Regions from separate parts of the Homo sapiens genome. Here region 1 is linked to region 2. The links come from fine-mapping of genetic effects on gene expression. A gene starts in region 2. The other region holds a variant in brackets. All regions are shown on one strand. Distances are between the middles of the regions. Region 1 overlaps STEAP4 (STEAP4 metalloreductase). Region 2 holds the start of STEAP4 (STEAP4 metalloreductase).

Evidence for each region. PIP is the estimated chance that this variant, and not a neighbour inherited with it, causes the effect. A credible set is the group of variants that fine-mapping cannot tell apart.
Region 1: its variant is the best candidate, but not a certain one, in a credible set for the expression of STEAP4 in blood mononuclear cells (TOPMed, PIP 0.90).

The regions. Positions count from the first base shown.
Region 1 is chr7:88,267,530-88,271,930 of GRCh38, forward strand. It overlaps STEAP4 (STEAP4 metalloreductase), which reads right to left. Exons shown (of 5, transcript NM_024636.4): 5 at 3,363-4,401. Among named protein-coding and RNA genes, the nearest start is that of STEAP4, 37 kb to the right of the region's middle. The variant T/C (reference allele first, on the strand shown) is at 1,751.
Region 2 is chr7:88,304,662-88,309,062 of GRCh38, forward strand. STEAP4 (STEAP4 metalloreductase) reads right to left here and starts at 2,233. Exons shown (of 5, transcript NM_024636.4): 1 at 2,131-2,233. All of the region lies in intron 1 of LOC124901692 (a long non-coding RNA gene), which reads left to right.

The sequences.
Region 1 (4,401 bases), 37 kb before region 2:
ATTCTCCGTTTTCCATTACTTACTATTCTCCATTTTCCTTACTACTCTCCATTTTCCATTACTTACTATTCTCCATCTTCCGTTCTCCAGTTTCCTTACCATTCTCCATTTTCCATTACTTACTATTCTCCATCTTCCATTCTCCGTTTTCCTTACTATTCTCCATTTTCCATTACTTACTATTCTCCATCTTCCATTCTTCGTTACTTACTACTCTCCATCTTCCATTCTCCATTTTCCTTACTCTGCACTTGTGGCATCTATTTGTGTGTTTCCTTAAGTATAGTTCTTATTTCTTATTGTTTGCTCTTTGACCCTCCTAATTCTTTCTTGGCATTTGTTAATTCTTATTTTCTTTTCTTCTATAAACTTGTGGCACAACTCCTAGGTATAAGGAATGCTACAATTTTTTAATTTTGTAAGTCAGAATAACTTTTTGTGGAGCTACTGTGCACCTAGCCAATATCACATTCAATTTAAGTTAATTTTTGTGTCTTTTTTTCTCTCATCCTTCTCTCAAATCAGGGTGCAGAAATTGATTAGGGCTAGAAGGTGGGGGAGGGTTCTGGTCTGTGCCTGTGGTGGTTGACATCTTTATTCTGGCTCTTCTGGCCACATGATACTGCTGTTAAGAGTTGGGTCGATGTAGTCACTTTGCTTTGCATGGCCTTTGAAGTGTTTCTCAGAGAACTTTACTGTATTGACTGAAGATTCTTACTAAAAGCTTTGTGTCTTACTAAAGTAATGAGTCATCTCTCAGCATTTGGGATACTTCATTCTGCAATCCTCGTTCCTCTGCCTCAGATTCAGGGTGGTGGAGGGATTAAATCCATACCTTTTTCTCAGATTCAGCCATTTTCAACTTTTGCTCCCCAAGCATCTTTTCTTCACTATCTCTTTACCATGTTTAGCCCTTCTCTGAGACTAGCAGCTTCATAATGTTCAGTGAAACAGAAATGCATTTTTTTCTTTCGTATGTATTTTTAGACCTTAAGAATCACATATTTTCTTCTCTTTCATAGGTAGGGGATTGGAACTTGGAAAAAGAGATATGCTTCCCTAACACACTCTGTGATGTACATTTGTCACTTATTTATGCTTAACATCTTAGGACATAACAATTGGCGAAACTATCTGTTGAGGATTATATTTGAGTGAAAGGGTTAATAAATGTCATAATTATTATCTAATGTTATTAACAAAAGTTATTTATTTTGCTGCTTTTCTGCCTGTGATGCTTTGTCAGTTAGGTTCTCCAAGAAGCAGGTACCAAGATAGGATGGGAGATTTATTGGAAGAAATGACTTAAAGGATAAAGGAGGAGGGAGCCTTCATATTGCAATGCTGGTCTTACACGTGCAAAAGATGAAGGCAAGGGAAACATTGGATAGGAGGAGATCCAGATCATAGTGCAGATGTGAAAAGGTCTTGGCTGGCCCAGTGGGAACATCCAAGCAAATGCTGCCCATTAGAGGAAGCTCATATGAGGCAATGATCCATTAGAGGAAGCTCATATGAGGCAATGATCCATTAGAGGAAGCTCTTTTGAGGCAATGATGGCTTTGTTCTAGTATCTCTGTTATGCATGGTCATTGCCTGGGAGCAGCCCAAGGGCAATGTGGATCATGTGAATAACGTGGTGCTTATCAATAATGTGGGCCAGTTGAAAGTTGTTTATTTGTTATGTTTCCTTGCAGCAGGTTCTCTTGAAGGAACATCTGAGTAGGTCATCTTCCATGACTGCCACTGA[T/C]GTCTACTTGGTATTTTTAGCCAGTTTTATAAAAACTATTTTTATTGTAAAATTATTTTATATTAAAGCAGTTTTAACAGTCTTCTTCATATGGGGAAGAATTCCAACAGAGATGAAATAATGGACAACTTTTTGTTGTTGAATATTCCTAAAATGTTTACTAAGACTTTAAATATTATTTTAATGAGAGAACGTTAAAGAAGGGGAAAATGTTGTGTATCATTCTTTAGAATTCCAATAATCACAGTCAGCCTAAATATACCACTAGATAATTCTGTTTCTTTAGTCTCTGTCATGTTTTTTAAAGGCAAAGTACTCATCACAGACTGAAAAGTCCAAAATTGTCACTGGATATACCTGTTTCGGATCAGCCCTTTTGACCCCCATTTTTTTTTGGATCTACAACCAGCTTGTTTTCAACTTAATCACCTGATTTCAAAAGGATCGGAAAAAACCCTAGCCTGAAAATCAGTCATCTGTGGTCCAATTCTGCTTTGTTGCAATGTAGCTATGTGACCTTGCAGAAATTACTTCACCCTCTTGGGTTCAGTTTCCACATCTGTGAAATGAATGTATACTATTAGATAATCTCTAGGCTTCATGTAGTCTAAAAAACACTATAGTTGGAGTTGGAGGTTATGGATAACGTTTCTGTATTTCCTATCAAAAACTAAAATAAAGACATGGAGGCCATGTTTAGGAAATATGTGTAGAGCATATCTTTTGGAAAAGGGAATTAATATTTAAAACAATTTTCTATGCTGAAGGATAGGTTAATTTATATGAGATAAACTTTAATAAGAATATGGTGAGTGCTTTTTTTTAAGTAAACCTTTTATTTTAGAACAATGTTAGGGTCATAGTATTTTAAAATAATTTTAGATTTATAGCATTATTGCAAAGACAGTGCAGATAGTGCAAGATATTTTTGCTTTGTACTTAGGTTTAAAAATATTAATGGTAATCAGTGTAGGGTGGATGGTTTGGTGGTGGAAGGGGGCAGAGATGGGGCTAGAGGGGCAGACTATGGAGAGACTGGAATTAATGCTTTATGTGAAAAGAAATTAGGCATATTATTTGATGTGATCCTGAAATTTTGCGACTATAAAAATTTACAGTGAACATGTACACTAAATTAATAGAGACTCACAAGTTAGAATAACAGAAGCAACAATCACGTTATACTCTAAACCTGCACCTCAACTGGAGTTATATTTTTGATGCCTACTTGCTATTTTTAGCCAGTTTTATAAAAACTATTTTTATTGAAAATTTATTTTATATTAAAGTATTTTAAGTCTTTTTCATATGGGGAAAAATGCCAATACAGATGAAATAATGGACAACTTTTTGTTGTTGAATATTCCTAAAATGTCTACTAGGAATTTAAATACTATTTTAATTACAGAATGTGAAAGAAGGGAAAAATATCATGTTTTTGGTTTAGGGAACTGTGTTTTAAAAGGAACATTGAAATGTTTGTAGATCTGAACAAGAGGCACCAGAAAGATGAAAGATTTAGAAATTTTTATACAAGAGAAAACAGTGAATGTGCTGGTGTTTAGCGTAAGATAAGATTTAGCAGGGATATGCAATCAATTACTTTAAAAAATTTTTTGTTTATAATTTTTTAATTAAAAATTTTTAATTGACACACGATAATTATACATATTTATGGGGTACATAGTGACATTGCAATACACAAAATATACAGTGATCAGATTAGGGTAATTAGTATATCCATCATCTTAAGCATTTATCATTTCTTTCTGTTGAGAACATTCAATATCCTCCTTCTAGCTATTTAGAATATATATTATTGTTAACTGTAGTCATCCTACAGAGCTATAGAACACTACAACTTAATCTTCCTATCTAGCTGTAATTTTGTATCTTTTAACAAATTTCTTCCTATCCCCCATTACCTTTTAAATTAAATTTATTTTAATAATTAGGTAACCTACTCATGTAATTTAAAAACCAAAATGATATGAAAAGGTCTACAGTGCTTCTACTCCTGTCACTACTCCTCTGTTCTCCCATCTTGTTTGGTATGGATCTTTTGAATCCTTCTGAGAGTTTCTTTAGGCAATTAAAAGCAAATACACATATGCAAAAGGAATCATACTATATATGTTATTTTGTACCTTTTTAAAAACTGAACAGTATATTTTGGACATCTTTCCATATATGTGAAAGAAGGTGTCTTGGTTTGTTTTAAACAGCTGCATAGAATTTCATTCTGTGAAAGCATCATAGTTTCCTTAACCAGTCCCAAAGATGAATGCTTGAATCACTGCCCATATTCTACTTTTACAATGTTATTCATGAAAAACAAGAAAAACAAATAGCAATGCTTCTTTTTCATCTCAAATGCTTGTAGGCATATCTATAGCATAAATTCTCAGGAGTGAGACTCCTGGATCAAAACTTAACTCTGCATTTTTTAATTTTGAAAGATATTCCCTAACTGCTCTCCACAGGAGCGGTCCTAATCTGCATATCCAAGAGCAATGTATGTGAACCTACGTTTCCACAGCCTCACCCACAGAATGTGTGCTCAAACATTTGGATTTTTGCCCATCTACTAGGTGAGAAATGGTATTGATACAGTTACAATTTTCATGCGTCTCATTATGAATGAAGTAGAA
Region 2 (4,401 bases):
GTGTGTTTGCTAGCAACTTATCAGATTTCCTAAGATTTTCCAAAAAAAAAATGATTTTTAAGTAGCATTTGATAAACACGTCTAAATTAATTATGAAGAGAACTAGGTGGTAAGGATCCTAAAACAGTGGAATGTGTTCCTGAGAGTGACAACAGAATCAGCTACCCAGCCTTTAAAAGGAGAATTTATATCCTTTTAATAACAGTATTAATAATAGTAGGGTGATTCAGGGGAAGTCCTTCAAGAGACAAAGTAATGCAGAGTGACCACTCCAAGTTTCTTTGAATATAAAATTCCATAACAAATGACCTTATTTTTCTTAAAATTGTTCACACATAGTGCAAGGCCTGGGGTTTTTAATTTATTAACAATCTTAAAAAGTCTGTTTAGTTCCTTCTAAACAACAGTTAGCGAGCTTTAGTAAGGCAGAAGTCTGGAAATTGTTCTTCAGCTAGGGGCCAGGCCTTGTACACCTGGTTTCTGAACAATGTGAACTTCAACAATGTGAACAACGTGAACCTCAGTGGAACTGTAAACGTTACCAAATAGAAAAACTGCTATGACCCAATTTCTCTGTACACATGTACCATTTACTTTACAGCCTTGGAGCCTGATAAATAGGAAGTGTCTCATCCTGTTTTCTGGGTTGGCAGTGTTTGCCATGCAGGTAGAATACATGCAGGTCAAATCTCATATTGTGCTAAATCACAGCATTCTGAAAAACTTGGGACCTTGCAAAAGGCCATATCTCAGAAAAGTTACTGCTTCAAATAAATGTGCCATTTTACAAAATTATACCTACTGTATCAGAAAAAAAAAATGTTCTCTCATGTGAGTGACATTTATATGACTGCCATTTGTAGGGAATAGGACATTCTCACATAGCAAGGCTGAAGAATGGTTTTGAAAGCTGAGAGTATTCTCTGAATGATAAATGTGGCAGAACTTTAAGATGCTCCTGTGGGAAGAGACTCTTCCCCCGACAACTGGAGAGTTTCCTTATAAAAATGGAACATGCATTATTATGAAAAAAGTAACCACTGAATTATAGTTGTAGCATTAAGGAGATTTTCTATGTATTTCAAACTTGCAGGCATCTTTAGTCACGGCTTTTCACCTTGTTAGAGTTGAACTTTCTGGATCATCTGGCCCAGTAGCCAGCCTTTTATTTTACATCTGTGGAAACTGAGGCTGAGATAATGAGGTTCTAGTTATTATAGAACTAGGAATAGTATTCTTCCTCCCCTCCCCCATTCTCTATCCAATTCACTTTCTCAGCTCACTGCAACCTCCACCTCCCAGGTTCAAGTGATTTTCCTGTCTCAGCCTCCTGTGTAGCTGGGATTACAGGCACCTGCCACCACGCCTGGCTAATTTTTGTATTTTTAGTAGAGACTGGGTTGCACTATGTTGGCCAGGCTGGTCTCGAACTCCTGACCTCAAGTGATCCATCGGCCTTGGCCTCCCAAAGTGTTGGGATAACAGGCTTGAGCCACCGTACCCAGCCTCAGTACACCAATCTTTTAAAGAAAGTTCCTAAATTACCATCTAGAGGTGGGAAAAAGAATAATAAAATTCTGTCTCTGGACAAACAAACGGAACTGAGGCTTTATTTACTCTTCACAATAAATTATATTCTGAACAATCTTCCTCCAGAAAAATAACCTTTAAATTGCAAGAGGAAATTTAAATCAAGATAAAAAAATGGAAGTGGTTGCAGGTATCAGGACAAATTTTTAGTGCCTGGTCAAGAAGCAGCCTCGGATCTGAGACCTTGGAGACTGACTGCTAAAGCCACATTCTTCCAGCCTACTTTTTGATGGGCGCCCCAAGAGTGCGCCAATCCAGAAGTAAGATGCAGAGAAGAATCTAACCCCTTAATTTTCCCCCTTTGGGCTTGTCTGCACCCTGGGGTAGGGATGAGCCTTAAACTCCAGGAAGTTAGAAGCTTGCTGAATCGCGGAGCAGCCTCAGGTGACTTTCCTCTAAAGTGATGCCGGGGCGCGGCGGGGAGTTTGCAAGCACCTGTTCTTCAGTGCGATGGGCTGGGGAGTGGGGTCCTAGCAGCAGGGACTGGAGGTGAGCTGAAGCAGATAAGGGACGGGAGCCTTGTGGCGAAAAGTGACCCACCTGAGGGAGAGGCGCTTCCAAGGAGGAAGCGTCCAGCGCCAACGGTGCGCGCCGCGGGCCGGGCGGGTAGAGGGAAGTTTCGCCGCGCCTGCAGCTCAGCGCTGTGGCTTGTGGCTCTCGCTGCTATAAGAAGCCAGAGAAGGGCGGGACGGTCTGCTGGATTTCGCAAGAGAAGCGGAAAAGAACTTGTTTCCTGGAAGAGTTCAAGCTGAGAATCCCAGCAGCTGGAAGGACCGGAACTTCTATACTGCGGTGCTGCTGATGGTGCCGCTGACCCCCGGGAAGCGGGGATTTTAAGGGTTACACCCGAGCCCTTGGCATCTGTGCATCCCAGGGTGATTGAGGTTTGGAGAGGTCTAGGAATCCCCCTTTCCTAAAGGAGCAAGAAGGATCTCTTTGAGTAGCTGAGAAAACAGCACCTGGACTAGGCTTCTAGGCAATTCTTTTGCCATCTTGTCTCAGTTTATAGAAAAGGTGGTATCTTTCCCCTCCGCCTGGAAGCCATGGGTTCTTATGGGGCTCATAACTTGGAAGATCTTGAGTTTTCAGGTCTTAATTTAGGTAGATTAAAGAAATAAAACAAATGAAAGAGGGATCGGGATACCTTATGATATACATGCAAATGTGTCTTTCTACAGAGAAGGTCAAAAACCACAGCCCTGGTTGTTTAAGATTGAAATAATCCTGATAAACTATGGGGCAAAGCATCCATACACTCCCAAACTCTGTAATCTAAATCCCAGAGTCTTCCCAATGATCTCCACTCAGCCATGGGTCTTAAATTCCACAGCATACGCTTGCCAAGCTCCAGAGGCCCGGCCACATGGGAGGCCTGTTCCTCCCATGGAAAGGGGTTGTTGAGTCAACCTTCCCTTTGTCTGGATTGCAACTCTCCTCATAGCTTCTTGTGGGGTTGGTCAGACCCCATGTCTTTCAAGAGGTCTTTTCTTAGCCATTAGTTGCAATTAATATTTTCTTTCTCTATACAGTAGTTTATACTTTTAGCACAGCAATTAAGACAATTTGCCTTTCAAAAGAGTTATTATCATGTGTGTGTGTCTTGTCCTGGACTGCAGTCTTCGAGGGATGACACCCTAGTTTTTTCAGTCTGGAATTTTCCATAACACCTAGCAAAATGCATTACTTAACAATGGGGATTTATTCTGAGGAATGCCTCATTAAGCAATTTATTAAATATATTCTGAGGAATGTCTCATCAAGCAATTTCGTCATTGTGTGAACATCATAGAGTGCACTTACACAAACCTAGATGGTATCACCTACTACAGGCCTAGGCTAGATGGTATATAGCCGATTGCTCCTAGTCTACAAACCTGTTCAGTATGCTACTTTTCTGAATACTGTAGTCAGTTGTAACACAATGGTAAGTATTTGTGTATCTAAGCATAGAAAAGGTATAGTAAAAATGTGGTATAAAAGATAAAAAATGGTATACCTGTATGGAACACTTACCATGAATGGAGCTTACAGGACTGGAAGTTGCTCTGGGTGAGTAAGTGAGAGAGTGTGAAGGCCTAGGATATTACTATACACTACTGTAGACTTTATAAACACTACATTTAGGCTATGCTATTATAAGAAATATTTTTCTTCCTTCAATAGTAAATTACCCTTAGCTTTCTGTAACATTTTTACTTTTTAAACTTCTAAGTTTTAAAAAACTTTTTGAGTTTTGTAATAACGCAGCTTAAAACACATATTGTACAGTGTGTACAAATAGTTTTTGTCTTTATATCCTTATTCGATAAGCTTTTGTCCCGTTTTTAAAAGTTTTAATTTTTTTGCTAAAAATGAAGACACAAACACACATATTAGCATAGACCTACACAGAATCAAGATATGTGATATCACTGTCTTCCACCTGTATGTCTTTTGTTACTGAAAGGTCCTCAGGGGCAGTAACATGCATGGAGCTGTCTTCTGTGGTAGCAATGCCTTTTTCTGGAATATCTGCTGAAAGACCTTCCTGAGGCTGTTTTACAGTTAACTTTTTAAAAAATACAAGTAGAAGGAGTACACTCAAAAATAATTTAAAAGGTACATATAATAAATACATAAGCCAGTAACATAGCTATTTATTATCATTATCAAGTATTATATACTGTACATAATTGTACATGCTATACTTCTATATGACTGGCAGCATAGTAGGTTTCTTTACACCAGCATCACCACAAATGTGAGTAATGTATTGCTCTGTGATGTTATGACAGCTACAGTGTCCCTAGGCAAGAGGAATTTTTCAGCTCC